Linked DNA regions of Homo sapiens: all the other regions are linked to region 3. Evidence: fine-mapped expression QTL. A gene starts in region 3. Each other region holds a variant in brackets. All regions are shown on one strand. Distances are from middle to middle.

Region 1 (7,479 bases), 22 kb after region 3:
TCATAATGTTGGTAACCATGTCTTGTGTGCAATTCAAGGTCACATCTGAACCAGGCGCCACACCCATAGAGGCAGACATAACCCCAGTGAAGTGGGTTGGGTTACGTAACTGCCCTGTTACTTTCTCCAGCACTGGCACCTTTCTTTCTTCCCTTCAGCACCAAGACTTTTGGACAGCTCCACTGAGAGCGCCAGCAAATTAAACAGGCTTTCTACCCTTATTATCACGTTTTCAAGTTCCCTAAGACCCATTCCTACCCCTTCCTCCTAAGATTAAGATGAGCAGATCCTCAGCACTCAATAAATGGAGAAGAATCTCAATCTCCTCTTCCCCACCTTCCCCTTGCCAGTGTGCTTCTCTCCTTCTTAGTCTACACCCACCCCTGCACACGTTTGTAAGCATATGCACACGCACGTGTGTGCATGCACACACTCTCTCTCTCTCATTCCCAAGTAATGCTGCCACTTTTCTCCCCTGATGTGGGTTAAGGATTTCCAATAAGAACCAAGTATTTGAAGCTTAATACTGCAGTCTCCAGAGGAGCCAGGCCAATTTCACACTAATCTAACCCATGAAGGGAGAGAGCAACGGAAGCAAAAATTACATCAAAGAGAAGTTAATGCTGAGAAGCAGGCGACATAAAAAGGAGCTACTTTCAGTTTCAAAGGACTACACCAATCTGGATTAAGAGATCAGCCTACCGAATGCCTGTATCACCATTGCTGTGTCCGGGCACCAGGCAGAATGAAACCATGTCCTCAGGGGCCACTCTGAATGGGGTCAGAGGAGAAAAATGAGGTTTCCACCCTGACTCCACATTCATTGACATAGTACATGCTCTGGGCTGGGGGCTTTTGGGAAAATAAGTTAAAGAAATATAGGAGAAAAGACTAGAAGAAAGCACATCAAAATGCTAGCTTTGTATTTAGGGGATTTTCCCCTCTTTCTATTGCTCCATATTTTCTGGAATGAAGTTTTCTTACTTTCATGGTGACAAAAGTAAAATAGATGTTCAAACAGCAATGGGACCTCAATGTGCTTTCCTCCATCTGGAATGTATATCTCTAGGCATTTTCCTTGGCACAGCACTTAGCACAGTTATGTTTATAGGTGAAAAAGCACTTTATAAATGACTGTGCAGAGGATTATGATGGTGTGGTCAGCGATGGAAAGTGATGGGGGAGCTGCAGTTTCATTCAGTAATTCTAAGACAGTGGCAGATGGCAACCTGAGAAGTTCTAAATGCTTCAATTCTCCCCCTTTTCAGGATGTGGAGGCTCAGTGCTGCTAAACCCCCAGCACTCTGCTACAGCCAAACTGAATGCCATTTGTTGAATGAGCAAAGAAATGAACGAAAGAAAAAGCGACGATCTTTTCCATTTCATCTGACCACCGACAGTATTGCTCCAAAGTAGTTTGACTCCATCCTTCCTTTTGCACAAGGCCCCACTGCTCCCTCCCAAACAGATGACCTGGAGACCAGGAAAGAATTCTTGTCAAGCTCCCAGACAAAGGTTGCTCAAACAGCCAATACCCCTTGCCCCGAGAGACCACCAATCTGTCTCCATCTGCTGACTGCTGGGCTTCTTCCAAATCCTTGAGCCTGAAGTCCACTGACCTGGGGGAATGACCCACAAGACAGAGAGAAGTGGAGGGACATCAAGAATGATGGGCCCAGCCTGTGGTGCCTCTGGGGAGGAGCTGCTTGTCATCCCATTTTAAGTGGAGCTGAAGGGAGACCGGCCTCCTGCCCACCCCTCCTCTTGCCCACCCGAGGCGGCAGCCTGACAAGTGTAAATCCCAGAATGAATGGAGGCGCCCGGCCCGTGGAGCCGGTGTCTCCGCGGGCATCTCCGCGCTGATTGACTTGTCGCCTCTGCGAGGCTGACTCTATCAGCTCCTCGGCTCCTCCAATTCCAGGTGTGATTTAGTTTGGAGATGAGAGGTGACAGTTAACATTGGTACTCGTCACTGTAGATCAGACCGCAGTCACGCTGTCTTCCCCCTCCCCAGCCCGCCCCCTCCCTCCTCCGAGGCGCCAGGGTCAGCGCTCCCGCCCAGCCCACCGACGGGCAAGCGAGGCTCCCTTCCACAGTCTGCATTCCCCAGGGCTTCCTCAATGCCAACACCTTCCTCCGGCCTGACCGTCACTGTTTCCCAAAAGCCCAGGCATCCTTGGCTTCCCTGGAATCCCCGGATGGTTTTTCTTTCTGTCTTCTCTCTCCTGGTTAGCCTAGCCTCTGAGCAACCTCAGTCTCCGCTGGCTCCCTGCACAGGATCCCCTGCAGGGGCCAGAGGGATGTTCACTGGGCAACGTGTCCTCACCAAATGCAGAGTTTGGAAGAGATGCGAGTGGATGAGAGCCAGGGTGAGCTGGATCCAGCACTGCTCTGTACATTGTAGAATAAACTTGTGCAACCACCACTCAGATCAAGATATAGAGCAGTTCCAACACCCCAGAAGTGTCCAGTGTCCAAGGGAGGCTTTTGGGGGTCAAAAACTTGTCAAAGGAAGACTTGGGTGAGATACGAGCAAAACTTCTCAGGCCATGAAGGACCCAGAAGGTGGGTGGGAAAGGGGGAGAGTTCCCTGGATAAAGAGCTACTCTTTTCTAGGCTTCTGGAAAGTGAACTGTTGAGTGAGAGGAGGGATTTTAGCTGTGGCACTGTCAGAGGGTTCTCTAGAGATGCTTCAGGGGTCACTGATGAGGGTCTCTAGGCGGTGGAGTGGGCAGCCTCAGTGGTTCCACCTATGTCTGTGTCATTCACTGGGCTTCTCTGCAGGATTTCATTTGAAAGAAAAGTTCTGTGGTGGAAATACTCTCTGCTCTCCTTGTTGTGCCACATGGCCTCTGTTGCACTAACATATATAGATTCTATGACCACTGTCTCTCCCTGCAGACCCTTCTTCACTCCTTCCCACTTTCACTGAGCCTCACACTGTGCTGGGAATAAAGCTGTCACCTTCTCAACAGAGCACATTCTCTACTGCCAGCCCACACACACTCCAATTCTGACTCCAGGCTTATCTGCCTTGGAGCTGCTGAGAGGAACCCAGATTCCTGCCTTTGGGTTCCCTATCTCCTTGAGAAACTGCTGGAGGGAGGGGCTGCAGGAGTTTTCCTGGGCACAGGTAGAAAAACAGAGAAGGGAGGGAACCTTGGTTAGGTTCATTCTCTTTGTTACAGTTTGAATGTGTCTCCTCCAAAATTCAGGTGTTGCCAATGTGACAGCAGTAGCTAGTGCGGCCTTTAGGGAGTGATTAGGGCAGGAGGGCTCCTGCCTTGTCAATGGGATTAGCCGCCTTTATAAAGAGGCTTGGTGAAGGGAGTTGGTTTCTCTCTTGCCCCACCCACCTGCCTTCTACCTTGTGAGGGCACAGCATGAAGGCCCTCACCAGACAGATGCTGATGCCTTGATCTGGGCCTTATCCTCCGGCACTGTGAGAAATAAATGTCTGGTGTTTAAGGCACCCAGGCCATGGCATGTTGTTATGGCAGCCCAAATGGGCTAAGACATCAGGCTTGTCTAATTTTGAGGTCTACACTATAGAAAACCACATTCCCCGATTGATTTTTTCCCGTTTTAATATTAAAATTTAATTATAAAAGTAATAGTAAAATAAATTATCATTTAAAAAATAAAACATAAATGATAATGTTTGACCAACCTTGAGTCTTGGTCTCTTCCTGTTCTCCCAGAGGTTATCACTGTGAGCAAGTTGGTGCGTAACCTTCCAATGATTTTTCTATGTCCTTACATACATATGTGCATACCCTGTAGAAAAAGACATATTATTATGCTGCAGTGATATTTTGTTCTTACATAAATGGCTTTCTATGTGTTGTTTGACTTTCTTTTTTTTTTT[TC/C]TTTTTGAGACGGAGTCTCACTCTGTTGCCCAGGCTGGAGTGCAGTGGCACGATCTCAGCTCACTGCAACGTCTGCCTCCTGGGTTCAAGCAATTCTCCTGCCTCAGCTTCCCCAGTAGCTGGGATTACAGGTGTGCGCCACCATGACTGGCTAATTTTTGTATTTTCAGTAGAGACAGGGTTTCGCCATGTTGGCCAGGCTGGTCTCAAACTCCTTACCTCAAGTGATCTGCCCTCCTTGGCCTCCCAAAGTGCTGGGATTACAGGCGTGAGCCACCACGCCCAGCCTGCAACTGACTTTCTTTGCTCAGAATTCTGTTTACCACTGCATGGTTTTCGCTCTATTTGGGGCTAAGCCATCCCTATTAATGGACTTAGGCTGTTCCCGGTTTATTGCTATCACAGTGCAGTGGCAACTATGATAGCAATAAACATATCTGTGTTGTCTTGTGTGCTTGTGCACGTGGTTCTCTAGGACAGACACCCATAAGTGACATTGTTGGATCACAGGAATACATGGTTTTAACTTTAATTGTCCTTCCAAACAATCCCTTCAGAGAGGATTTACAGTTTACAGTACCACCAGCAACGTATGAAAGTATTACTTCCTCACACTCTTGACAATACTTGATGATACCATACTTTTAAAATTTTACTTACTTGATGGGTGGAAAATGCTGCCTACTTTAACTTTTCTGTTTTTTCTTTTTTTTTCCTTGAGACAGAGTCTCACTCTGTTGCCCAGGCTGGAGTGCAGTGGTACGATCTCGGCTCACTGCAAGCTCCACCTCCTGGGTTCACGCCATTCTCCTGCCTCAGCCTCCCAAGTAGCTAGGACTACAGGTGTCTGCCACCACACCGGGCTATTTTTTTTTTTTTTTTTTTTTTGTATTTTTGGTAGAGACAGGGTTTCACCGTGTTAGCCAGGATGGTCTCGATCTCCTGACCTTGTGATCCGCCAGCCTCAGCCTCCCAAAGTGCTGGGATGACAGGCATGAGCCACCGTGCCCGGCCAACTTTTCTGTTTTTAATTCTCCTGTGATTACTTATGCAAAGGGGTCCCTAGTATAATTCCCGTGGAAGAAAAGTGGAGAGATAGAGCAACCCCTGGTGTTTATTCAGGCAAACTGGGTAAAATTATAACAGCTGACATTTACTGAGCACAGCCCTGTGTAGATTGTTTAGCACATGTCTGGGAGGCAGGTGTACTTGGGTTTGAATCTTGGTCTTGCCACTTTCTAACTGTGTGACACTGCATGAGTCATTAACCTTTATGAGTCCTGGGTCCCCCTCTATTAAATGGGGATGATAATAGTAGCCACCTCATAGGATTATTGGAAGAATTAAAAGAGTTAGTATTTTATATGGTTTGGCTATGTCCCCACCCAAATCTCATCTTGCATTGTAGATCACATGTTGTGGGAGGGACGTGGTGGGAGGTAATTGATTCATGGAGGCATGTCTTTCCCATGCTGTTCTCATGATAGTGAGTAAGTCTCACAAGATCTGATGGTTTTATAAAGGGGAGCTCCCCTGCACACGCTCTCTTGCCTGCCACCATGTAGGATGCGACTTTGCTCCTCATTCACCTTCCACCATGATTGTGAGGCCTCCCCAGCCATGTGGAACTGTGACTCAATTAAACCTCTTTCCTTTATAAATTACTCAGTCTCAGGTATGACTCTATTAGCAGTGTGAGCACAGACTAATACAGTATTTTTAAAGTTTTTAAGTGCCCATCGTAGTGCATATTTGTATTTGTAGGTAATTACAAATATATGTCAGCATCTGTGTTCTTTATGTATATTGATTCATTTGAGTCCCCCATCAGTTTTGATGCAATAAATACTCTTGTTAATCCCACTTTATGGAAAAAGAAACTGGGGCAAAAAAAAAGTTTGAAAAACTAGTCCAAGGTCACACAACCATACGGGCAGACCTAGGATTTGAACTCAGGTCATTCAGCACCATTTAATCACTGCACTATGCGTTGTTAAAGGGGAAAAGAGGGAGCCAGATTTCATATTTTGTGGTAAATGTGAAAAGTGGGATAAACCTCTTAGCTGTCTCAGAAAAGCACTAGGAAGAGGCCATCATAACCCCAGCCTTGTACAGCATGTGCCAGGCTTTGAGACATACTTCCCTCCATCCTTGCTAGTCTTGGAGTCCGGAGTCCAAAAGCCTTGTGTCTGCACCCCAGCTCCACCACTTCATTGCTCTGTAAACTCAGGCAAGCCTCCCACCCAGGAGAGCCTTCCTGTCTTCCTTGGTTAAAATGCAGGCAGGGTCTCCTTGAGGATTAAAAGCAACAATGCCTGCAAAAGCCCTGCATAGAACAGGGGCCCCCACAACCCTTACTGTAGTTCTTGCCTTGGACTCCTGCCATTTTCAGATTTTACCTCTTCCCAATTCTCTCTTTTCAAAGCTCATATGGTCATGAGGAAGAACTAGGAACAGTGGTGCCCCAAGGGTGGGACAGTGAGTGCAGTCTGCCCCAGGAACTGGCAATAAGGGGATCCATTGCCTTAAGGACCTTAAAAAAATTATAATACCAACTGAAAGTCAGTCTTCTTTTTATTATTACCATTTGCTAGTAATTCTAAACCATGACAGTGATAAAATTCTCCTCCCTGAAAAAATATTTTGTTACTCTAAGTTCTAAATGCCTGCAGTCAGGGTGGGGCATTACCCCCCAACCTATCCTTGGTACACCCCTAGGCAGGAATTCTATTTGGTACAGGTGCATCTACTCCAGAAAGAGATCCTACCCCTGGACCCTAGCAGGAGGCAAAGAGCAGAGGGAGGAATGGGTCTAGGGATCACAGATAAGAAGAATCCATTACTGCATAGCAAACCATCCCAAAACACATGGTTTACAACAACCGCCATTTTATCACATATGATTCTGTGGGTTGGCAGGGCAGGGCAGGGCTCAGTTGGGATGGCTCATCTCTGCTCCATGTGGCTTGACTGGGCTTAGTGTGTGGCTTACGATTTGGGCTTGAAGATCCCCAGTGGTCTCCTTCTCATGCCTGCCCTCTTCCCTTGGGATGGCTGAAACACTGGGACTCCTCTTTCCTCACAGTCTTTCATCCTCCAGGTCTTTTCTCGCCATATGACTTCTCTAGTAGGATGACCCAGACCTCTTTATATGGAGACTTAGAACTCCAAGAAAGAAAGCAGAAGTTGTAAGGCTTCTTCAGACTAGGCATAACCTTCAGACCTTGCACAACTTCACTTTGGCTGCAAGTCATAGGTCAGTTCCGATTCACCGTGGGAGGAAACCACACGAGAGTGTAAATTCAGAGAGGTGTGACCCATCCGCCCCACCCAGCTACCTCCTGAGCTTACCCCATCTGTGCCTTCCCCAATAGTTTTCCTCAGATCTAATTGATACTTAACAGTAACAGCAGTAACCTGTGCTTCCTGTGTCCCAGGCTTTGTGCAGAGGGCTTTGGGGAACATCTCATTGAATGGAGGGTGCTGCTCTCCAGTGAGGCCACAGATGCTGCTGGGTCCCTTGGTGCTCTAACTTCACCTGTGAGGCCCAGTACACAAAGCCCATTCCAGCAGGTCTTCTGCACCTCTCGGCATCACTACCCTCCTCCTC
Region 2 (7,479 bases), 70 kb before region 3:
TTATAGTAATCATTTTCTTTCTCTTTCTAGGTAGTGCTTTTGATATTTTATTTTTTAAATCTTTACCTACTTCAAGTAAATGAAGACACTTTCCTTTTTTTAACCATAATATTTACTTTTTTACACTTTCATCTTTATTATGCAATCTATATGGACTTGGTTTTTTTCAAGTTGTGGAAATAGGGATCAAGATGTATATTACCTGTGAATATCCAACTGAGTCAGCACCATATATTGAACGGGTCATCCCTTCCTTGCTGCACTACATCATTACCTTTGTCCTCAGTTAAGTGACTATGTGTGTGGATCAGCTTCTAGACTCTGTTCTGTTTCACTGTTTTATTTGTTTATTCTTGCACCAATACCACATGGTATTAATTACTGTAACTTTATAAGAAGTCTTGATAGCTAGCAGTGTGTCTTCCAGCTGTGTTCTTTAAACACTCTCTTCTCTATTCTTGGTCTCTAATGTTTCCATGTTTCAGAATCAGCTTAATTTCCCCCAAGAAATCTGCTGTGATTTTGACTGGAATTGCATTAACTCTGTAGACCAGTTGGAAAATAACTGACATCTTTACAATATTGAGGCTTTCAATTCATGAATACAGCAGATCTCTCCATTTATTTAGACCTTCTTTATTTTTCCTCTGTAATGCTTTCCATGTAAAGATTTTTTCTCATCTTTCATTAGATTTATTCTCAGTTTATGTCTTCGATGCTATTGTAAATATTTTTAAATTTCATTTTTGAACTGAATATTGCAGATATATAAAAATATCATTGATTTTTGTAGAGTAAACGTGAATCCAGTAGCCTTGCCAAATTTACTTATTTCTAATAAATTTAATTGACCATAGATTCTTTTGGATGTTCTACATAAACAATCATATGCTTTGCAGTCTGTAACTTCTTTTCCTTGCCTTATTGCAATGGTTAAGATCTCTAGTACAATGTTTAATAGAAATAGTATTAGGAAATATTCCTAATCTCAAGGTGAAAGCTTTTAATATTTCACTATTAACTATGATATTTCCTGTAAGATTTTTACTGATCTTTACCAATTTAAAGATGTTTCCTTCTATTCCTAGTGTGTTAAGTGTTCACTATGAATAAGTATTTGATTTTATCAAATGCTTTTTCTGCATCATTCTATTGAGATATTTTTTCTGCCTTACGATGCTAATGTAGTGAAATACACTAATATTTAAATGGAAACATAATTCGTATATCTTGAAAGTCATCATTTTAAAGAGTACAATTCAGTGGTTTTTAGTATATTCACAAAGTTGTGCAATGATTACCATATAACTCCGGAACATTTTCATCACTGCAGAAAGAAACCTCATACCTACTAGCAGTCCTTCCCCATTCCCCTTTTCCCATTGGCAGCTACTAATCTACTGCCTGTCTGCAATATCTGTCTCTATGGATTTGCCTATTCTGAACATTTCATGTAAGTGGAATATGGCCTTTTCTGTCTGGTGTTTTTCAATTAGCATAATATTCTCAAAGTTAATCCATGTTGCCACATGAATCAGTACTTCAGTCTTTTCATGGCAGAATGATGTTTTATTGTACAGATATACCACATTTTGTTTACCATTCATCAGTTGATAGGTACTTGGGTGGTTTTCACTTTTAGTTTATTGTAAATAAGGCTAAAATGAACATTTGTGTACAAGCTTTTGGGGGTACATAAGTTTTTAACTGTCTAGGAATGGGTGTAAAGTGGCATCTTGTAGTTTCAGTGTTTCTTCAGTGACTAATGATGTTGAGCATCTTTTCGTGTGCTTGTTGGCCATGCCTACATCTTCTCTGGAGAAATGCTTACTCGAGTCTTTTTGCCCATTTTTAAATTGGATTGTTTACCTTTTGGTTGTTGAGTCATAAGAGTTCTTTATATATTCTGGATATCAGACCCTTATCCAATATATGATTTGCAAATATTTTCTCCCATTCTGTGGTCGTCGTTTCATCTTCTTGACAGTGTCTTTTTGAAGCAAAAAATTTTAAATTTTGATAAAGGCTTATTTATCTATTTTTTCTTCAGTTGCTTGTGCATGTGGTGTCATATCTAATAAACCATTACCTCATCCAAGGTCATGAAGATTTATGCATTTGTTTTCTTCTAAATGTTTTCTAGTTTTAGCCCTTATGTGTAGGTCTTTGATATGTTTTTAGTTAATTTTGCATATTGTATAAAGAGGGATCCAACTTCATTATTTCGCATGTGGATATCCAGTTGTCCCAGATAGTTTGTTGAAAATAAATCCAGTTGAATGGGTTGAAAACACTGATTTTGTGATGTTAAGCCAAAATCTTGCATTCCTAAAATAAATAATTCACTGAACTTTACTTTCTAATATTTTCTTTAAGATATTTATAAGTATGTTCATTAGATATAGTGGCCTATAATTTTCCTTTCTTGTAATGAACCTGCCACCCTTTGGTATTAAAATTATGGTAGCCTCAAAGTGAATTGGGAATTATTTTTCTTTTTGTATTATTTCAAACAGTTTGTATAAGACTAGTGTCAATTCTTTAAATGTTTAAAAGAATTTGCTGGTGAAGAAAAAAATCTGGACTGGGGATTTTTTTGTGGGAAAGTTATAGTTACAGATTCAACTTTTTTTTCTTTCTTTTTTTTTTTTTTTTTGAACACAGTCTCACTCTGTTGCCCAGGCTGGAGTGCAGTGGTGCGATCTCGGCTCACTGCAATCTTCACCTCCTAGGTTCAAGCGATTCTCATGCCTCAGCCTCCTGAGTAGCTAGGATTACAGGAGCATGCCACCACGACCAGCTAATTTTTGTATTTTAGTAGAGATGGGGTCTCACCATGTTGGCCAGGCTGGTCTTGAGCTCCTGACCTTAAGTGATCCACCTGCCTCAGTCTCCCAAAGTGCTGGGATTACAGGCGTGGGCCACTGTGCCCAGCCCAGATTCAACTTCTTAAACAGATATAAACAATTCAAATTTTCTATTTATTCTTTTGGGTTTGTTGTTGTTACAGGGTCTCACTCCGGTTGTCCAGGCTGGAGTGCAGTGGCAGCATCTCAGCTCATTGCAGCCTTGACCTCCCTGGCTCAGGTGATTCCCCCACCTCAGCCTCCTGAGTAGCTGGGATTACAGGTGCACGCCACCACGCTCAGCTAATTATTTGTATTTTTAGTAGAGACGGGGTTTTACATGTTGGCCAGGCTGGTCTTGAACTCCTGGACTTAAATGATCCATCCACCCTGGCCTCCCAAAGAACTAGGATTACAGGCACGAGCCACCATGCCCAGCCTTCTATTTACTCTTGAGCTGGTAAATTGTATTTTCCTAGAAATTCCATTTCATGAGGATTTTCTGATTTGCTGACAGAAAGTTCTTCATATTACATTCTTAGAATATGAAGGTTTGGGGTTTTAAAAAATCCCAGGCTTTTTCTGGGGTTTTATATTGGTAATCTGTGCCTTTTTTCTATTTTTAAAATAGAGTTTAGAGTAGTTTTGGATTCACAGCTAAATTGAGCAGGAGTACAGAGAATTCCCATATACCTTCTTCCCCCACACATGCACAGCCTTCCTCACCAGAGTGATACATTTGTTACAATCAACACATTATCATAAAACAGTTACACATCTTTATCATCCAAAGTCCATAGTTGATACACTAATGTTCACTATTAGTGTTATACATTCTATGGGTTTTGATAAATGTATAATGGCATTTATCCATTATTGTAGTATCATACAGAGTATTTTCACTGCCCTAAAAATCTTCTGTGCTCTGCCTATTCACCTCTCCTTCCCATCTAACCCTTGGCAACAATTCATCTTTTTACTGTCCCCATAATTTTGCCTGTTCATATAGATGATATCATACTGTAGGTAGCCTTTTCAGATTGGCTTCTTTCACTTAGCAATATGCATTTAAATTTCCTCTATTTCTTTTCATGGCTGGATAGATCATTTCTTTTTAGAGTTAAATAATATTCCATTGCCTGCATGTACCAGATTGTTTATCCATTTACCTGCT[G/TCTG]AAAGACATCTTGGGCAATTACAAATAAATCTGCTATAAACATCTGTGTGCAGTCTTTCTGTGGACATAGTTTTCAGCTCATTTGGATAAATACCAGGAAGCATCATTGCTAGATTGTATGGTAAGAGCATGCTTAGTTTTGCAAGAAACTGCCAAACCGTCTTTCATCATAGCTGTGCCATTTTTCATGCCCATTAGCTAATTCCCATTAGCGTTCCTGTTGCTCCACATGCTCACCAGCATTTGGTGTTGTCAGTGTTTTGGAAAATCACCATTGTAATAGGTATGTCATGGCATCTCATTATTATTTTATTCTGATGAGCATCTTTTCATATGCTTATTTTCCATCTGTATATCTTCTTTGGTGAGGTGTCTGTTCAGATCTTTTGTCCACTTTTTAATTTAGGGCTTTTTTTTTTTTCTTATTGCTGAGTTTTAAGAGTTCTTTTTACAGTTTGGATAACAGTCCTTTATCAGATGTGTCTTTTGCAAACATTTTATCCCAGCCTGGGGCTTATGTTCTCATTTTTTTGACTTTTTTTTTTTTAAATCAGTCTTGCTAGAGGTTTATCAATATTATTAGTCTTTTCAGAGAACCAATCTCTGGGTTTGTTGCTATCCTTTTTCTACTTTTTGAGATGCGTACTTAGACTGACTTTTAGCCTTTTTTATGCAAGTTTTGATGTCATTTAAAAATTGCCATATAGTTCCAAATATTGTCTAACATCTACTGCAATTTATTTTTGAACTATCAATAATTTAGAATTGTAATGTTTAATTTCTAAATATTTCAGGCTCTGCTGGGGTTTTTAAAAAATTGATTTTTAGAGTAATTTCACTTTGGTCAGAGAACATATTTTAGGTGATTTACCCTTTGGAATTTGTTGGGACTTACTTTAAAGACCAGCATATGATAAATTCTGGTAAAAATTCAATGGGTGCTTGGAAAGAATACCTCTTCTGACACTGCTGGTTATAGTATTCTATGGACATTAATTAGGTTAAATTTATTATTCATTTTATTGTAATCATCCATATTATTAATCACTACTTGTACTATCAGGTACTTCTAGGTCTGTAATTTTGTTTTCTATATTTTGAAGCTATATTATTAGTTGCATTAAAATACAAACTCTATCTTTCTGGTAGATTTATCTTTTTATCTCTATGAAATGTTCCTTTGTGTCCTTAGTAATGCTTCTTGACTTACATTTATCTCAACTGATATTTGTATAGCTATATCAGCCTTTTCTTGGTTGGTGTGTTTTTTATCATCCTTTTACTTTCAATTTTTCTCTTAACACTCAAAGTATGCCTCTTGAAAGCCAGATATAGTTAGGTTTTTAAAATATTTACCCATGTGTTAGGCAGCCTCTTTAAGATGACCTCAAATGACCAACCTCCTGGTATTAAAGCCTTGTGTAATTGCCTTCCTTGTGTGAGGACTGAAGCTGACTAACCTCTGGTGAATTCTAATGGTTAGTCCTGCTCATGCAAAAGTTGTCAGATTCAAAATGGAGTCACTTGTGTCAAACCCTGACAACGTGGAGCCAGGGAAGGCTATGAAAGGAGGGATTTCATGCACGATTTGCCTGATAACAGAAACGAATCAAAGCTTACCAACTTAAGTCACACAAGGACAGCAGGGCAGCTAATCACTTTTCTAAGAACACTTGCCTGACACATTGACTCATATGCAAGGCCAATCAAACAAAACATAATTTTAAGATCACAAATTTCACCCAATAACTGCCACCACTCACAAATCAGCACTTGCCAGCTCCCAAAAGACACTATCCCCTCCAATGACTTTCTTTCAGAACGACTTGTATAACCTCCTCTTTCCCCAGTAAAACCCTAACCTTTTCCTTTTCTCTGGACATACTGGAGGACACCTGGGTCTGTCTGTATGTATGACCTGGATTGCAATCCCACATCTTGTGTATTACTCCCCAATAAAACCTTTTTACTTAGAGATTCATCTTTCTATACATTTTTATGTTGACATACGTTATTTCACATGTATAGATACAATTGTATCTGTAGGACAAATTCCTAGGATTGCTGGGTTTAAAAATGTAATGAACCTTTGTAATTTTAATAAGATACTGCCAACTCTTTATACTTGGCACTAGTTTATACAATGTATGAGAGCATCTATTTAACTACACATTTGCCATTATAGCGTGTTAACAAACTTTATTATTTTTGGTAGGTGAAAAACTTCTATTATTAAGCATTTTCGTATGCTTCAAAGTCATTTGTATTTTCTCTTCTATTACATGTCTCTGTTAATCTCCTTTGCCCATTTTTATACTGGATTGCTAATGTGTTTTCCTTTTTATTGATAGGGACTCTTTCTATTTTAGATAACTTAGGCCCTCATCTTGGCAGAGTTACACATTTCTTGCCCAAGTTCTCATTTGCATTTGCTTATGGTGCTACTGCCATGATGAAATGTTTTCTCTCTGTGAAGTCTAATCCAGCAATCTTTTCTTTTATGGCTTCTGGGTTTTGTGTCATACTTAGAAAGGCCTTCCCCAGTCTTAGGTTATAAAATAACTTTCCTTTTTTTTTTTTTTTTTGTACTTTTAGAAAAATTATTATTTTTTACGTTTAAATCTTTAGACTGTCTGTAATTTGTCCTGGTATAAGAGGTGAAGTATAGATCCAACTTAACTTTTTTCACCAGAGCCCTACCTAGGAGTTCCCACCCCATTTGCTGACTAATCTTTTTTCCACTGATTGAAAAGCCATCTTTATCATATTCTCAATTCTCGTAAGTATTTAGATCTATTTTTGAACTGTTCTGTTCCACTCATCTGTATGACTACTCACAAATTATTACTACTCTGTTTTAATTGCTGTAGATGTATAAATTTTAATATCTAGTAGTCTCCCTCTATCTTTTTTTAATATGAACTTTAGAATTAATTTATATAATTTTTTTCAATTCTATTGGTATTTTTATTGAAGATCACATTACATTTGTAAATCGAGAGAAGTGATATCTTTATGATGCTGCGTATTTCTATGAGAGAACGTGGTGTATCTTCCCGTTTGTTTGGGTCTTGTTTCATCTCTCATTAGCATTTTAACATTTTCTACAAATAATATTTCTTGTGTTTATTCCTATGTTATCATTTATGTTTTGTGCTATTACAACATGGGTCTTTTCTTCCCTTAGAGCTTGAAATTAGACATTGTATCTATAAAAGCTATTGATTTCTGAAAATTAATTTATTAAATTCTTATTTTGTAAGGTCTGGTTAGTCTTCTTTAGTTTCTAAGTAAAAAACTCAGTATCATCTTAAAATTATAATTTTCTCTTCTCTTCTAATTTCTGTATCTTTAATTTCTTTCACTTAATTGTTTCGCCTAAGTCTTACAGAACATTTTTAAATAATAGTGATAATTAGTGGACATCTTTTTCTTGTTCCTGACTTCAATGAAATTGCT
Region 3 (7,479 bases):
TTAGAGACAAATTTTTCTGGCTTGATCACATCTGATGTAAGACTAATGGGACTCGGTACTGTTATTTTCAAAGCCCACCATGTGTTCAGACAATTTGAATGTCAGCCATAAAAAAATAAATTCAATATAATCAAACCACAAGTAGCAGAAAACAGAATTATAGCCAAAAAGCATCTAAAGCCATGATTCTTAATGAGGACAGGCAACTTAATGGAACATTTATAAACTCCGTATACCTGGCGCTAGCATATTCTCTCTCACACACACACACCAGCCTCTGCTGAGACCTGAGTTCTAAACAACAATATTTATGTATAAACTGTATGGCATAATAAGCAGCAAATTGTTTTTTAAAATAAAATTATTAGTTTTGCATTTGAGGTACGCGTTTTAAACAGTTTTTAGAAACAACTGTGTTTCTATTACATATAGCCTTCCTGACAGAGGGAAATAGACTCATGAATGGTACCTTAAAAAGCTAAACTACTGATTGATTCAAGGAAGGCTTCAAAGTCAATACTAGAGTGGCTGGTTTGAAAGAAGGTAGAACCCACTAAGACCATGGATGTGCACTTTGGGAAAAATTAACCAGGAAAATCTTTGACTTAGTAAGGGAGATCTCACCATTCTGACATGTTCTCATCAGAGCCCTGTTTTTGTTCATCTGTTTCACACTCCATCCTTTCTTTCCTTCCTGTTTTGCTTAGGAAAGTCCTATTTTCTGCTGATTCACACAATCCGTGGCCTGATGAGGTCCAGGGAGTATTCTCCTTCCAGCGGGACAGACGCTGCTTCTTAGCAGACTTGAACCTGCAGCCTCTCTCATAGCTCCAATCTGACACCTTCAGCTTCTGCTGAAGGCTAGCAGCCACCTCTGATGTCACTCGCTTCACCTTCCGCCTGCGCCTGAGTGGTCGACAAGGTGCATTTTCAGTAAAGGAGTCAGATTCATGCCAAGAATGTTGCTTACTCTTGACAATGGCATTGAGAGCTGGGTGTCGTTTGGCTACCATTGTGTCATCAGAGTCACTAAAATTGGTCACCGGAGCCACTTCTCGACAGTCCTTAGTGGCCTCATCCAGACTTGACTCAGAGGCCTCGCTGTAGCAGCAGGTATGCTCTGCCAGGTGAGTGAAGTCAGAACGACGCTTCCGACCTCGGCGTTTCCGAAGCTGCCGCCTCTGCTGTCGGGGGCTCAGCGCCATCTCCTCCCACAGTTCACCAAGCTTATTCTGCTCAGATGTCTGCTCCAAGGCTGAGGCTAAGTCGTGTACCAGCTCATCCATGAGGCCACATCTGCCAAAAGGAAGTTTAGGAAAAAAAGAAAGAAAGAAAAGAAAAAGAAAAAGAAAGCCTGAAAAAGGATCTGTTGTTTTGGAATAATTTGATGAAACAGATCATGGTAGTCCACAGTTCTGCCTGTCTAAACAAAATAAGTCACCTTTCATCTGGCTACACTTAGATTCTGTTCCTACCACTTCCTTAAGTCACTAAAAATAGATGTTTTGTCCCTTGTTAAATGCCTGAAGTCAACATATTCTTAAGCACAAAAACCTACTAACCAGAAGACAACTGGGACAGGACCCAAAACAAATTCGGGGGACTAGATCCTTCTCTCTTTTCCCCAATTAAACTTGTCATTGAATTACCTAATGATGAGATCCAGAAAGATTAGAGACTGTCTCACTAGACAGGAACAGAAAAACATACAACTTCAAAATCACACTAGAGTTGTGGAAACACAGAGTAGCACATGGTCTCATCGAGGTATTGAGAATGAATGAAAAACTGTTCTTTGGCCTGGGGTCACTGCTGACAATGACCATGGCAGAAAGAAACAGAAAGACAACTTAGTGACACCATTTAAGGAAGAATGCAGTTTTCGTGATCCAAGAAATTGTAGTGACCCAGGTTTGAAGTCAGAATGGAGAAGAGACTAAGTTTGCGCCCATTCTGGTACCAACTACCACCTGGAAGCTACCAGGTATAGAACCTTATACAGTATGTCATATATTTTTGAATAATTAACAATTTTTAAGCCCCTCTCCTACCCTCCAGAAAATAAATGTTGGTCCTAGTTATGTGCTTCAGTGCCACACAATCACAGAAAACTAGGATACAATAGCAGCTGAAATGACAGGGATAGGGTGAAGTTTCTAAGATTTCTGGCCAAACTGCTTTCCAAAATTTCTTATTTTTCTGTTCATCCTCAAACCAAACATCACACTTCAGGGGTCACTTCAGAGACAAACATTTCAAGAAATGACAGTAGTAGGAGCAATCTTCAAAATTCCCCCTTAAGGGGAAATATTTAATTTGTACAGCATCTAATTAAATACATATTAAATTTTTAGCACTTTTCTCTTGCCTCTATGCCCAAAGTATTTCAAGATCAGCTTAAAATTCTAAGTGGTGCCACTCTCTGACCATATTCCCATTCATTCAGTTTTCACTTTGCAAAGGGCTTTCTAAAACCTATTTTCATGCTGTGCCTATGCCAATGAACTTAAAGACAGGAAAACAGTCCTCTGGCTTATCTGCCACACCTGTAGGAGCAATAGTGACACCTACTTCCAAAACTACCATACAAACGAAGCTTCTCAAAGTGTCCAAAAGCACATACATTTAAACAAGACCAAGTTCTTTTAAGCATTAAGAAGTGGTTTATCAACACCTGTGAAAAGAAGGGGAAAAAATGGGAAAAAAAAAAGTGGATTAAAATGCCATGATTGAGGTTTGGGAGACAACTGTCCCTAAGACCAAAATAAAGAAACAAGTGGGAACAGCATGTCAAAATCTACTTCCCTAATAAAGAATTACTGCTTTAAAAACTCAGGCAACAAAAATACAAAAAACAAAAACAAAAGAACAAATAAAAACCTCAGGCAGAACAGCACAAACTTGAACATGGAACGAAGTCATCAAACAACTTGCAGTCGAATGCCTGTGCAGAATCCTTTCCTGCCTCAAAGCCTGTAATTCCAACAGTAGTGACAAAAGAACCCTAGAACTCCCCATCTCCAGTCGCGGATGCACACTCTCGAGAGGACCCGGCGGCCAGGCACGCACCCGGGCAGAGATGAGGCTGAGTCACGCACAGGAAGGAACGGGTAGCTGGTGGACAGCAAGTAAGAAGAGAGACAGGAGCAGGGTGGAAGTGAGGGGCGGAGTAGGAGGTGGGAGAGGCAGGAGGCAACTGCTCATTTGGGCTCACGAGGGGCGGGGATCGGCTCTTCTAGGGCAGAAACTGCCAAAATGCAAGTCTTGGCGACTGAGCTCCCTCCGGGATCGGGGGTCGCAACATGGCCACATATATGACAAAAACTGTGTTTCGAAGGACTCTCCACCACGCCCCGGCCCGTCCCTGAGGGCTGGGGCGACCATGGCTCGGGACACCAAGCCCTCAGGCTGCAGCCCGCCCCAGAGAGGCAGAAAGAAGAAAGGGGAAGAGGGGGCTGTGGCCCCGGAGACGGCCCGACCCACATCCCCAGGGATGGGGACAAGGGCCCTGAAAAGCAAGGCCCCACCACCCTCACCCTCCGGCCGTCTGCCGCAGCCCCAAGACGCCCTTAGCCGCTCAGCCGCGGCTTGGCGCTCCGATCCCCTCTGGTACTAGCCCCCAGGACCCCAACACTCTCAACCCATTCCTCCCCCTCACCAGCTGCCGCAGCCACCTCCAACGGCCGCCGCTTTTTGGGCCGACTCTCACCGCCGGGGCTTCCCTCTCTGACCTCATTTCCGGTCTGGGCCGGAGGGGTGGGGCGGTGGCGAGTGGGAGGGGCTGGCTGCACGATTGGGCCCCTGACCCAGTGCTTCCGCCCGTGGCCACACCCACTTCCGCCCCGCGGTGGGCGGAGCCACAGGAAGCCAGGAGATGGGGCAGGGGACAAGGAGGGGTGTTGAATAGGGTCTGGCCGGGAAAGGGCGTCTCAGGGGTTGAGGTGCCCCACGTGGGGAAAGACCCCTGCATGCTGGCCTCATCTTCCTTAGGGGCTTCCAGAAATTGGGCGCTAGGCAGGGATGTCAGCTTATCTCTTGCTTTCTGACCTTTTTAATGGGTCTGTGAAGTTGAGGGGAAATGGATCTTAATGACGTCTACCCTGTGAGCTGGTACAACCTTTGGAAGAGGTTGTTTTGCACTGAGTTACTCAGAACATTTCAAATTGCCTTGAGCAATAAAACAAGTGATATTGGATTATAACTCAAAGTACAAAAGAAATATTCATGAGCCCATGCCGATATAAGTGATTGAATAAATTAACGAATGAGGAAGAAGAGATAAATCCCCCACAGAAGAATCTCAAATAACTTATGTAGACAGCCATCCTGCAGCATAACTTCTGCCTCCTTAAATGTGGGCTGTGCATAGTGACTTCCTTCCCAAAAGTACAACATCTGTAAAGGGGAAAATGAGTGATTTTACAGGGGAGAAACCTGGCAAACAGTAATTCAGCCAGGTGATCAAGACTATGTGCTAAATCATGTTGATAGTATGTGGAATGATATATGATGAGAATGGCACTTTATGGTACTTTCCTTCCAAATCTCATAACCCAGTCTAATTATAAGAAAAAAAAATCAGACAAACCCGAATTGAGGGACATTCTGCAGAGTGCATGACCAGTATTCTTCAAAATTGTTAAGATCAGCAAAGGCAAGGGAAGTCTAAGAAACTCAGAGCCAAGAGGAGCCTAAGGAGGCATGACAATGTAATATGGTGTCCTGGGTGTGACGCTGCAATTGAAAAAAGAACATTAGGTAAAAACTAAGGAAATCTGGATAAAGTATCAACTTTAGTTAATCATAATGTATCGGGCCGGGTGAGGTGGCTCACGCCTGTAATCCCAGCACTTTGGGAGGCCGAGGCAGGCGGATCACCTGAGGTTGGGGGATTGAGACCATCCTGGCTAACAGGGTGAAAACCTGTCTCTGCTAAAAATACAAAAATTACATGGGCATGGTGGCACGTGCCTGTAATCCCAGCTACTCGGGAGGCTGAGGCAGGAGAATCACTTGCACCTGGGAGGCGGAGGTTGCAGTGAGCCAAGATCGCACCATTGCACTCCAGCCTGGTCTACAAGAGTGAAACTCCGTCTCAAAATAATAATAATAATAATAACGTATCAATATTGGTTGCAATTGTGAGATGTGTTATACTTCTGTAAGAGTGAATAGCCTGGTGTGGTGGCTCACACCTGTAATTCCAGCACTTTGGGAGGTTGAGGTGGGCGGATCACCTGAGGTCAGGATTTCGAGATCAGCCTGGCCAACATGGTGAAACCCCGTCTCTACTAAAAATACAAAAAATTAGCCAGGTGTGGTGGCACATGCCTGTAGTCCCAGTCCCTACTCAGGAGGCTAAGGCAAGAGCATCGCCTGAGCCCAGGAGGCGGAGGTTGCAGTGAGCAGAGATCGAGCCACTGCACTCCAGCCTGGGCGACAGAGTGAGACTCAGCCGTCACAAAAAAAAAAAAAAAAAGTGAATAATAGGAGAAAGTGTGAATTACACAGAAACTGTAACAATCTTCATAATTTTTATCTAAACCCAAAATTATCCTAAAATAAAAAAGTTTATTTAAAAATATGCACATACCTTGGACCCTGAAATTTTGCCCCAAAGAATTGTATTCTAAGGAAAAATTGGAAATGGGCGCAAAAATGTTAAATATAGGTAAATCATCTCTGCAGCATTTCTGAGGGAGAGATGAGGAAACTAGAAAAAGCCAGAAGTTCTACAACAGGGGTTAGTTAACTAAATTATGGTACATCTATGGGTGGAATATCTTGCAACTTTTAAAAATTAATGTTGCAAAAGAATATTTAATGACATGAAAAGCCATCGACTTATGATTGTGTACATTTCTGCATGACTGTTATACTTCAATAAAAAGATTACTCTAAAAATGTAGAGTATGATTCCCATACAAAGGAAATTAAATCTATACTCGCAAAGGAATATGACCAGAAGAAGCCACCATACAATATCCGAAATGGTTTCATTATCAATGATTATATCTCCTATCTATTGTTTTTTGTGGATTTTCAGAATGTTCTATAGGTGAAAAAAAGTCAAGGTAGGAGACAAAGATAGCTGAGGTTTTGAGCTAGGGCAACTAAGACAATGGTCAGTGCCATCTGCACAGCTAGAGAAGTCAAGAAGATAAACGGGTTTAGTGGAAAGATGATTAATTCCATTTTGGACATGCTGAATCTGTGACTCCCACAGGACAGAAATATGGAAATGTTCAACAGGTGTCCACAGCCTTAGGCCTCTTTTCTGCATAAGTGAAAATTCTCTCCCACAAATCACATCTGTTCCCACGGTGTTGATTGCCTGCATCAGCACTGAAAGCTCCCAAATTTCTTGAAATCCAACTTATATTTTCATTTTTCTACTAGATAGCTCCACTTGTTCACCTCACCAGCATTTCCAATTTAAAATGTCAAAAATAGGCCAGGCGTAGTGGCTCACGCCTGTAATCCCAGCACTTTGGGAGGCTGAGGCGGGTGGATCACTTCAGGTCAGGAGTTTGAGACTAGCCTGGCCAACATGGTGAAACCCCGTCCCTACTAAAAATACAAAAAATTAGGCAAGTGTGGTGGTGGGCGCCTGTAATCCTAGCTACTGGAAAGGCTGAGGCAAGAGGATCACTTCATTCCAGGAGGCAGAGGTTGTAGTGAGCTGAGAGCACACTGCTGCACTCCAGCCTGGTGACAGGAGTGAAACCGTGTCTCAAAAATAAATAAGTAAATATAATAAAATGTCAAAAATAAAGCTTAGTTTCTTCCACAGTTTCTTTCTTCCTTCCTTCCTTTCTTCCCTCTCTCCTTTCCTTTTTTTTTTTTTTTTTTTTCCCAGACAGGGTCTCTGTGAAATGAAAGACAGAGTGAGACCATGTCTCAAAAAAAAAAAAAATTGGAAATGGGCTCAAAAATGTTAGATACAGGTTAAATTCTTCTCTGCAGCATTTCTGAGGGAGGATTGAGGAAAGTAGAAAAAGTCAGAAATTCTACAACAGGGATTAGTTAACTAAATGATGGTACACCTACGGACAGAACACTGCAGTGGCATGATCATTACCTCACTGCAGCCTTGACCTCCTGTGCTCAAGTAATATTCCCACCTCAGCACCCTAAATAGCTGGGACTACAGACACATGCCACCATGCCCAGCTAATTTTTAAATTTTTAGTAGAGAGATAGGGTCTCCACTATGTTGCCCAGGCTGGTCTCAAACTCCTACCATCAAGTGATCCTCCTGCCCCAGCCTCCTAGAGTGCTGGGATTACAGGTGTGAGCCACCTTGTCCAGCCTCTTCCATAGTTTCTATCAAACCTGCCCCTTCTCCACTGTTCACTCTTTGGAAAATATCGCCACCATCATGCAGTTACCCAGGTGAGAAGCTTCAAACCCATTTTTAGTTCTTGTTTCTTTCTTTTACCCCTTTATCTAGCAAAGTGCTAAGCCCCGTAGATTGCA
Region 4 (7,479 bases), 86 kb before region 3:
TTCATACAGTTGTTGGCTGTTTATATATCTTCTTTTGAGAAATGTATTCATGTCCTTTGCCCACTTTTTGATGGGATGATTTGGGGGGTTTTTTGGTGATTTGAGTTCCTTGTAGATTCCAGATACTAGTCCTTTGTTGGATCCATAGTTTGTGAATATTTTCTCCCACTCTGTGGGTTGTTCATTTACACTGCTAATTATTTCTTTTGCTGTGCATAAGCTTTTTAGTTTAGTTAGGTCCATTTATTTATTTTTATTTTTGTTGCACTTGCTTTTGGGGGGTTAGCCATGAATTTTTTGCCTAAACCAATGTCCAAAAGAGTTTTTCTGATGTTATTATCTAGAATTTTTATTGTCTCAGATCTTAGATTTAAGTCTTTGATCCATGCTGAGTTGATTTTTCTATAAGGTGAGAGATGGGGATCCAGTTTCATTCTTCTACATGTGGCTTTCCAGTTTTCCCAGCACCATTTATTGAATAGGGTGTCCTTTCCCCAATTTATGTTTTTGTATGCTTTGTCAAAGATCCGTTGGATATAAGTATTTGGCTTTATTTCTCGGCTCTCTATTCTGTTCCATTGGTCTATATGCCTATTTTTATACCAGTATCATGCTGTTTTGGTAACTATAGCCTTGTAGTGTAATTTGAGATCAGGTAGTATGTTGCCTCCAGATTTGTTCTTTTTGCTTAGTATTACTTTGGCTATGCAGGATCATTTTTGTTCCATATGAATTTTAGAATTGTTTTATCTAGTTCTGTGAAGAATGATATTATTTTGATGAGAACTGTATCGAATCCATAGATTGCTTTGGGCAGTGTAGTCATTTTCACAATATTGATTCTTCTCATCCATGAGCATGGGAAGTGTTTCCATTTGTTTATATCATCTATGATTTCAGTGTGTCATAGTTTTCCTTGTAGAGATCTTTCACTTCCTTGGTTAAGTATATTCCTAAGTCAGGGGCTGGGCACGGTGGCTCACGCCTATAATCCCAACACTTTGGGAGGCTGAGGCAGGCAGATCACTTGAGGTCAGGAGTTTGAGACCAGCCTGGGCAACATGGTGAAACCTGGTCTCTACTAAAAATACAAAAATTAGCCAGGTGTGGTGGCGCATGCCTGTAGTTCAGCTACTCAGGAGGCTGAGGCATGAAAATCACTTGAATCCAGGAGGTGGAGGTTGCAGTGAGCCGAGATTGTGCCACTGCACTCCAGCAGTGTCTCAACAGAGTCTCGTTCTCTCACTCAGGCTGGAGTGCAGTGGCACAATATATATTAAAAATTAAAAAAATATATATATATTCCTAAGTATTTTAATTTTTTGCAGCTGTCATAAAAGAGATTGAGTTCTTAATTTGATTCTCAGCTTGGTCATTGTTGGTGTATAGCAGTGCTACTGATTTGTGTACATTGATTTTGTATCCTGAGACTTCACTGAATTCATTTATCAGATCTAAGAGCTTTTTGGATGAGTCTTTAGGGTTTTCTAGGTATATGATCACATCATTGGCTGACAGCAACAATTTGACTTCCTGTTTTCCAATTTGGATGCCCTTTATTTCTTTCTCTTGTCTGATTGCTCTGGCTAGGACTTCCAGCACTATGTTGAATAGAAGTGGTGAAAGCGGGCATCCTTGTCTTGTTCCAGTTCTCAGAAGGAATGCTTTCAACTGTATATGTGAACATATTTTAAAACCACAACAAGTGGATACTGATGTTCTGCTGTCAGCTTACCTGGCACATGTAAAGCCACAGAAGACATACCAGCAAAGGTGGCAAAGCACTTCTGGGAATGCCTGGTATTATGCAGCTATGAAATCTTGTTCCCTGTCCTCCCTAAACCCTTTTGGGTTGGTGATGTAGCCACACTCTGGCCAAAATGGATGCTCACTAGCAAGAACTTTTAGTTTCAGGTGAAAGAGTTGGGAAAGGAGCTTTCACCCAGCAAATCAGATCTTCAGCCAGCCTGTACTGACATACCTGTATTTGTCACACAGGATAATGTTTATCTCTCTAATTTTCAGAACATTATCAGGCATCTGAGAAGTACCACCTGGTTGATTGTAACACATAGTACTTTGCCCAAATGAAAATCGTGGAAAAATTCAACACTGGTCAGTATAGAATGCGCATGCTCGTAAAGTCTAAATATTTGCTTCCTCATGACTCCCACGTGAGTTGCTTAGGTAGATTTCTGGCTTGGGTTCAGAATGAAACTAAAAGTACAAAGAGCATCTTTGTCTGGCTCAGGATGTTCTCATTTTTTAATGAGATGGGAGCTCCCAAATGGACCACAACTGGTTGTCCAACCTAGGATGGTTTAAGGGAAAGGAAAGGAAGTTTCTTTAGAACAGTGGTTCTCCATGATACCAAGACTGACAGCAACAGCGACACTGAGACCAACAGCAGCACACCACCTAGAACCCTGTTAGAAATGCAAATTCTCAGTCCCACCTGGACCTATGAAATCAGCAGCTCTAGGGTGAGGCCCAGCAATCTGTGTTTTAACAAACTTTTAAGGAGATTCTAAAACATGCTTGAGTTTGAGAAACACTGCTTTAAAAAAAAGTCCTACCCGCAGCTTATTGCATGTAATTTAATCATAACTCAGTAAAGTAGCTCGGCTGGATACTTTCACTTATTCTTGTTCATGCATAAACACACCAGCACAGAAATCGCACAGACAGATCCAGACACAGGACACACATAGCACAATGAATGGCATAGACAACTGTTCATAGAGTAAGTACCAGAGCCCAAACTCCCTGACCCCTGAAAGTGGAAAATGTGTAGTGTCCTTTCAAGAAGGGTAAGGATTGGGCACAATGGCTCATGCCTGTAATCCCAGCCCTTTGGGAGGCCAACGCAGGCAGATCCGTTGAGCCCATGAGTTCGAGACCAGCCTGGGCAACATGGTGAAACCCCAACTTTACAAAAAATACAAAAATTAGCCAGGCATGCACCTACAGTCCCAGCTACTTGGGAGGCTGAGAAGGGAGGATCACTTGAACCTGGGAGGTAGAGGTTGCAGTGAACACCACTGCATTCCAGCCTGGGTGACACAGCGAGTCCCTGTCTCAAACAAAAGAAAGAAGGGTGAGGAAGAGAATGGGAAAGGGGAGAGACAGAGCAGAGAAATAGGAGAGGGAGGAGGAAGAAAAAGGACAAAATACAGCGTGTTTTCAAACATGATTTCATAAGACACAAAGTCTTTCTAAAGACAATCAGAATTCAAATGCCAGTGATCTTCACAGGAATCTTAATAAGAAAGTTAAAAATTTTTAATAATTGTATGGCTCATAAAACTCATCATGATTGAGGGTGTTGCTCACATCCTTAAAAGAATAAGCATCCCACCAGAGATGCATCTGGCACTTCAGAACTTTCTCCCAAACAACTCGTTTGCTTTTATCTCATGGACACTGTGAAGGGAATTGTTGATTATGTTTCCTTCTTTCAAGAAAA[C/T]GCAGAATCAAATTAGCAAGTGAATATCAATCAGCCTTTTGTATGAGAGCCTCACGTGGCTTTGCCTCACATTTCCTGCCTTTATTTCCCCTGCCTGGGTGTCCTCCTTTGCTGCACATTTGTGCTTTTGTCAGACATTTCAAATCCTTTTAGGAATGAGGCTGGCAATAAGGAAATACGGAGAAAGGCTCTTTCCCCAAGCAAACTGGAAACCTGGGAGGAAGGGCAGTCAAGGCATGACAGCCATGGGTCCAGTCGGGTGGAGAAGCCCAAGGGGGCTCACTGATGCTGTAGGCAGTGCCTGCGGGGCAGCTTCTTTGCCTCTGGTGGAGGGTGAGTGAACAAGCCTGAAGGCAGGAGCAGAAAGGGGAAGGACAACTATTAGTGACTGAAAAGCTCTTTGCTCAAGTTGTTTCCTGGGGTTAGGAAAAGGCAGTAGGGAGAAGGAATCTGTGTTTTCTTGTTTTTTTTTGTTGTTGCTGTTTTTGTTTTTGTTTTTTTTGTTTGTTTTTTCCGAGACGGAGTTTCGATCTGTTGCCCAGGCTGGAGTGCAGCGGTGCAATCTCAGCTCACTGCAATCTCCACCTCTCGGGTTCAAGAGATTCCCCTGCTTCAGCCTCCTGAGTAACTGGGATTACAGGTGCCCACTACCACACCCGGCTAATTTTTGTATTTTTAGTAAAGACAGGATTTCACCACATTGGCCAGGCTGGCCTCAAACTCCTGACCTCAGGTGATCCACCCACCTTGGCCTCCCAAAGTGCTAGGATTACAGACGTGAGCCACAGCGCCCAGTAGAATCTGTGTCTTATAAGATGGGCTGATCTCTGTCTTCCTTAGCATTCTCGCTTTGAGACTAATCAGTATCCACACAGGATTGGCCAGCCTGATGCAGGCACCACGGATCCAAGCATTCCTCCCTGTTGGTGTAATGCACCAGGCACAGATCCAGACCACCCTGGTTCCACTCTGCTCAGAGTTCCCAGAGAGATGGGCCAGTGGCATCAGCACAGATGATTAGAGCACCTGTTCAGGTCTGGTGCAAAACCTGAGAAAATACTTGTTTTGATATCCTATCTGGTTTGGAATGGGTAGAAGGGTATTTTCCTTGGATAGCTATGTTGGAGGGACTTATTCCAGCTCTAAGGTGGTCTGATTGGACGGAACCTGGGAATCAACCACAAGCAGGGGTGTTTGGAGCTGCCCTTTCCACCAGCCAGCAGTGCCTCCCAGAAAAACTTCCATAAGCCGCTCCATCAGGACTGCAGTGCCAACCTTGACCAGTCACTTCTGAGTCCAGTTACATCCATAATGACATTTCTCCACTGCCCCCTTCACCCCCAGAGCATGACAGATGAGGGGCTTCACGGAACGAGTCCCCGAGCTGTGATGGGAATCTGTCTCGCTCCACTACAGAAAAAAATATATATCCCTGAACAGCTGTGAGGAATTCTTTCATTAGTCATCTGCATCTTACCGCTAGTCTTCGCTTCCTCTTTTTACAATAAAAACTGAAAACAGATTAAATGTCATATTCTGACAATGATTGTTTTCAAACACCCAGGCTAGGAAAGGGGAGGTGACAGAGAGAACATTAGAGAGAGAACAGAGGGTTTGTGAAGCCATGGGCCATGGAGACAAAAAGGGAGAACTGTCCCTGCACGGTGGGAGGGCACCAGGGAGTGTCCCAGGGTGGACAGATCTGCACAGTGACCACACAGGCTCAGCTCAAGACTGAATGCTTATGTTCTAAAGCTTTTTGTTGGGAGCAATTTACAACCATTGAGAAATCAGACTGGAGAAGCTATGTGGAGAGGAGAAAGTAAATTACACCATAAACAGAAATACTCACAGGTCAAAGAAAGTGCAGATAGACACCGAAAGATCATATGCTCAGCGTTGTCCACATTGGAGAAGAAACTGCAGGGTCTTTTGAGAAGGTATACACCCTTTGGCAGGTCTCACATGAAGATGCTTGCCTCTCCAGAAAGTCACCCTAAGGCCAGTGTGGGCAGGCTGCAAGGAGATCATGGGGGAAGGTGAGAGGGGGTAAAGCAACTGTCAGAGAATGCCACAATCAGCCTGGCTGGAGGAAGGGCCTGACCAACTCAATTAGTGCTGATGTGGGTCACAAAACCACCTCAGAAACAATGGATAGTGAAGTTCAACCATCTGGTCAATGGCTGGAGGACTCATTCAGCTAAAAGCACAGTGTCTGATCAGGTCTTAACTAGCCTTCATATTTAGTCATTGTATTAGTCCATTTTTACACTGCTAATAAAAACATACCCAAGACTGGGTAATGTGTAAAGAAAAAGAGTTTTAATGGATTCATAGTTCCACATGGCTGGGGAAGCCTCACAATCATGGCAGAAGGCAAAGGAGAAGCAAAGGCGTGTCTTGCATGGCAGCAGGCAAGAGAGCTTGTCCAGGTGAACTCCCATTTATAAAACCATAAGATCTCATGAGACTTATTCGAGTTAAGCCTACCACAAGAACAGTATGGGGAAAACTGTCCCATGATTCAATTATCTCCACCTTGCCCCACCCTTAACATGTGGAAAGTATTACAATTCAAGGTGAGATTTGGGTGGGGACACAGCCAAACCATATCAGTCATTCAATTCAATATAGTTTGGTGAATGTCTACTGTATTCATTTTCTTTTTTTCTTTTTTTTTTTTTTTTGAGACAGAGTTTCGCTCTTGTTGCCCAGTCTGGAGTGCAACGGCGTGATCTCAGCTCACCGCAACCTCCGCCTCCTGGGTTCAAGCAATTCTCCTGCCTCAGCCTCCCAAGTAGCTGGGATTACAGGCATGCACCACCACACCCTGCTAATTTTGTATTTTTAGTAGAGACAGGGTTTCTCCATGTTGGCCAGGCTGGTCTCAAACTCCTGACCTCAGGTGATCTGCTGGCCTCGGCCTCCCAAAGTGCTGGGATTACAGGCGTGAGCCACCACTCCTGGCCTACTGTATTCATTTTCTATGCTGCTTAACTACCACAAACTTAGCAGTTCTAAATAACACACACTCTTTATCTACAGTTTCTGCAGGTCAGAAGTTTACACACAGGTTGGCTGGTTTCTCTGTTGAAGGGTTTCACCAGCTGCTATCCAGGTGACAGCTCGGGCTGCAGTCTCATCAGAGGCTCAACTGAGGAAAGATCTGCTCCAAGCTTCTTCAGGTTGTTGGCAGAATTTATTTCCTTGTGGCTGTCAGACTGAGGGTTTCAGTTTCTTGCTGGAGTCTACCCTCAGCTCTTAGAGACTGCTGACAGTTCCTTGCCACTTGGGCTTCTCCAATATGGCCATTTATTTCATGGAAGCTTGTTCCTTCAAAGCCAGTAACAGGGAGAGGGACAGAGAGAGAGTGATAACAAGACAGACTCTTCTATAACATAACCATGGGCATAACATCTCATCACCTTTGCCACATCCTATTGGCTAGAGGCAAGCCACAGCCAAGGGGATGGGATTACACAAAGCTGTAGACCCCAAGAGGTAGGAATCATGGGACACCTTAAAGTCTGTCTGCCACACCTGCTGTTTTAGGCAACAGAGATACAACAGTGAACAATAAGCCATGTCTTAGAGGAAAGCAGCTGGAGAGAAAGAGACAGAGAGAGAGGGAATCCATAGATTAAAGAATTAAAGGACATATATTACATTAAAAGACATATCTATGAATCTCCATGAATCTCAATATCTGGTCCTCATTTGGATCCTAATTTATTTTTTATTTTTTAGAGACAGGTTCTTGCTCTGTTGCCCAGGTTGGAGTGCAGTGGCACAATCAGAGCTCATTGCAGGCTCAAACTCCTGGGCTCAAGTGATCCTCCTGCCTCAGCCTCCTAGGTATCTAGGACTGCAGGTGTGTCCACTGCACATGGCTAATTTTTCCTTTTTCTTATTTTTGTAGAGAGAAGGTCTTGCTATGTTGCCTAGACTAGTCCCAAACTCCTGTCCTCAAGTGATCCTCCTGCCTTGGGCTCCCAAAGTGGTGGGATTACAGG

The links. PIP is the estimated chance that this variant, and not a neighbour inherited with it, causes the effect.
Region 1: its variant is the best candidate, but not a certain one, in a credible set for the expression of GPATCH2L in whole blood (INTERVAL, PIP 0.60).
Region 2: its variant is the best candidate, but not a certain one, in a credible set for the expression of GPATCH2L in transverse colon (GTEx, PIP 0.88).
Region 4: its variant is the best candidate, but not a certain one, in a credible set for the expression of GPATCH2L in skeletal muscle (FUSION, PIP 0.84).

The regions. Positions count from the first base shown.
Region 1 is chr14:76,125,907-76,133,385 of GRCh38, reverse strand. No RefSeq gene overlaps it. Among named protein-coding and RNA genes, the nearest start is that of GPATCH2L, 22 kb to the left of the region's middle. RefSeq lists an enhancer at 1,285-1,784. The variant TC/C (reference allele first, on the strand shown) is at 3,869.
Region 2 is chr14:76,218,132-76,225,610 of GRCh38, reverse strand. It overlaps a transcript of GPATCH2L not described here. Among named protein-coding and RNA genes, the nearest start is that of GPATCH2L, 70 kb to the right of the region's middle. The variant G/TCTG (reference allele first, on the strand shown) is at 4,021.
Region 3 is chr14:76,148,171-76,155,649 of GRCh38, reverse strand. It overlaps GPATCH2L (G-patch domain containing 2 like), which reads right to left and starts at 3,728. Exons shown (of 10, transcript NM_017926.4): 1 at 3,659-3,728; 2 at 625-1,296. The coding sequence starts at 1,286.
Region 4 is chr14:76,233,843-76,241,321 of GRCh38, reverse strand. All of the region lies in intron 2 of LOC105370575 (a long non-coding RNA gene), which reads left to right. It also overlaps a transcript of GPATCH2L not described here. Among named protein-coding and RNA genes, the nearest start is that of GPATCH2L, 86 kb to the right of the region's middle. The variant C/T (reference allele first, on the strand shown) is at 3,467.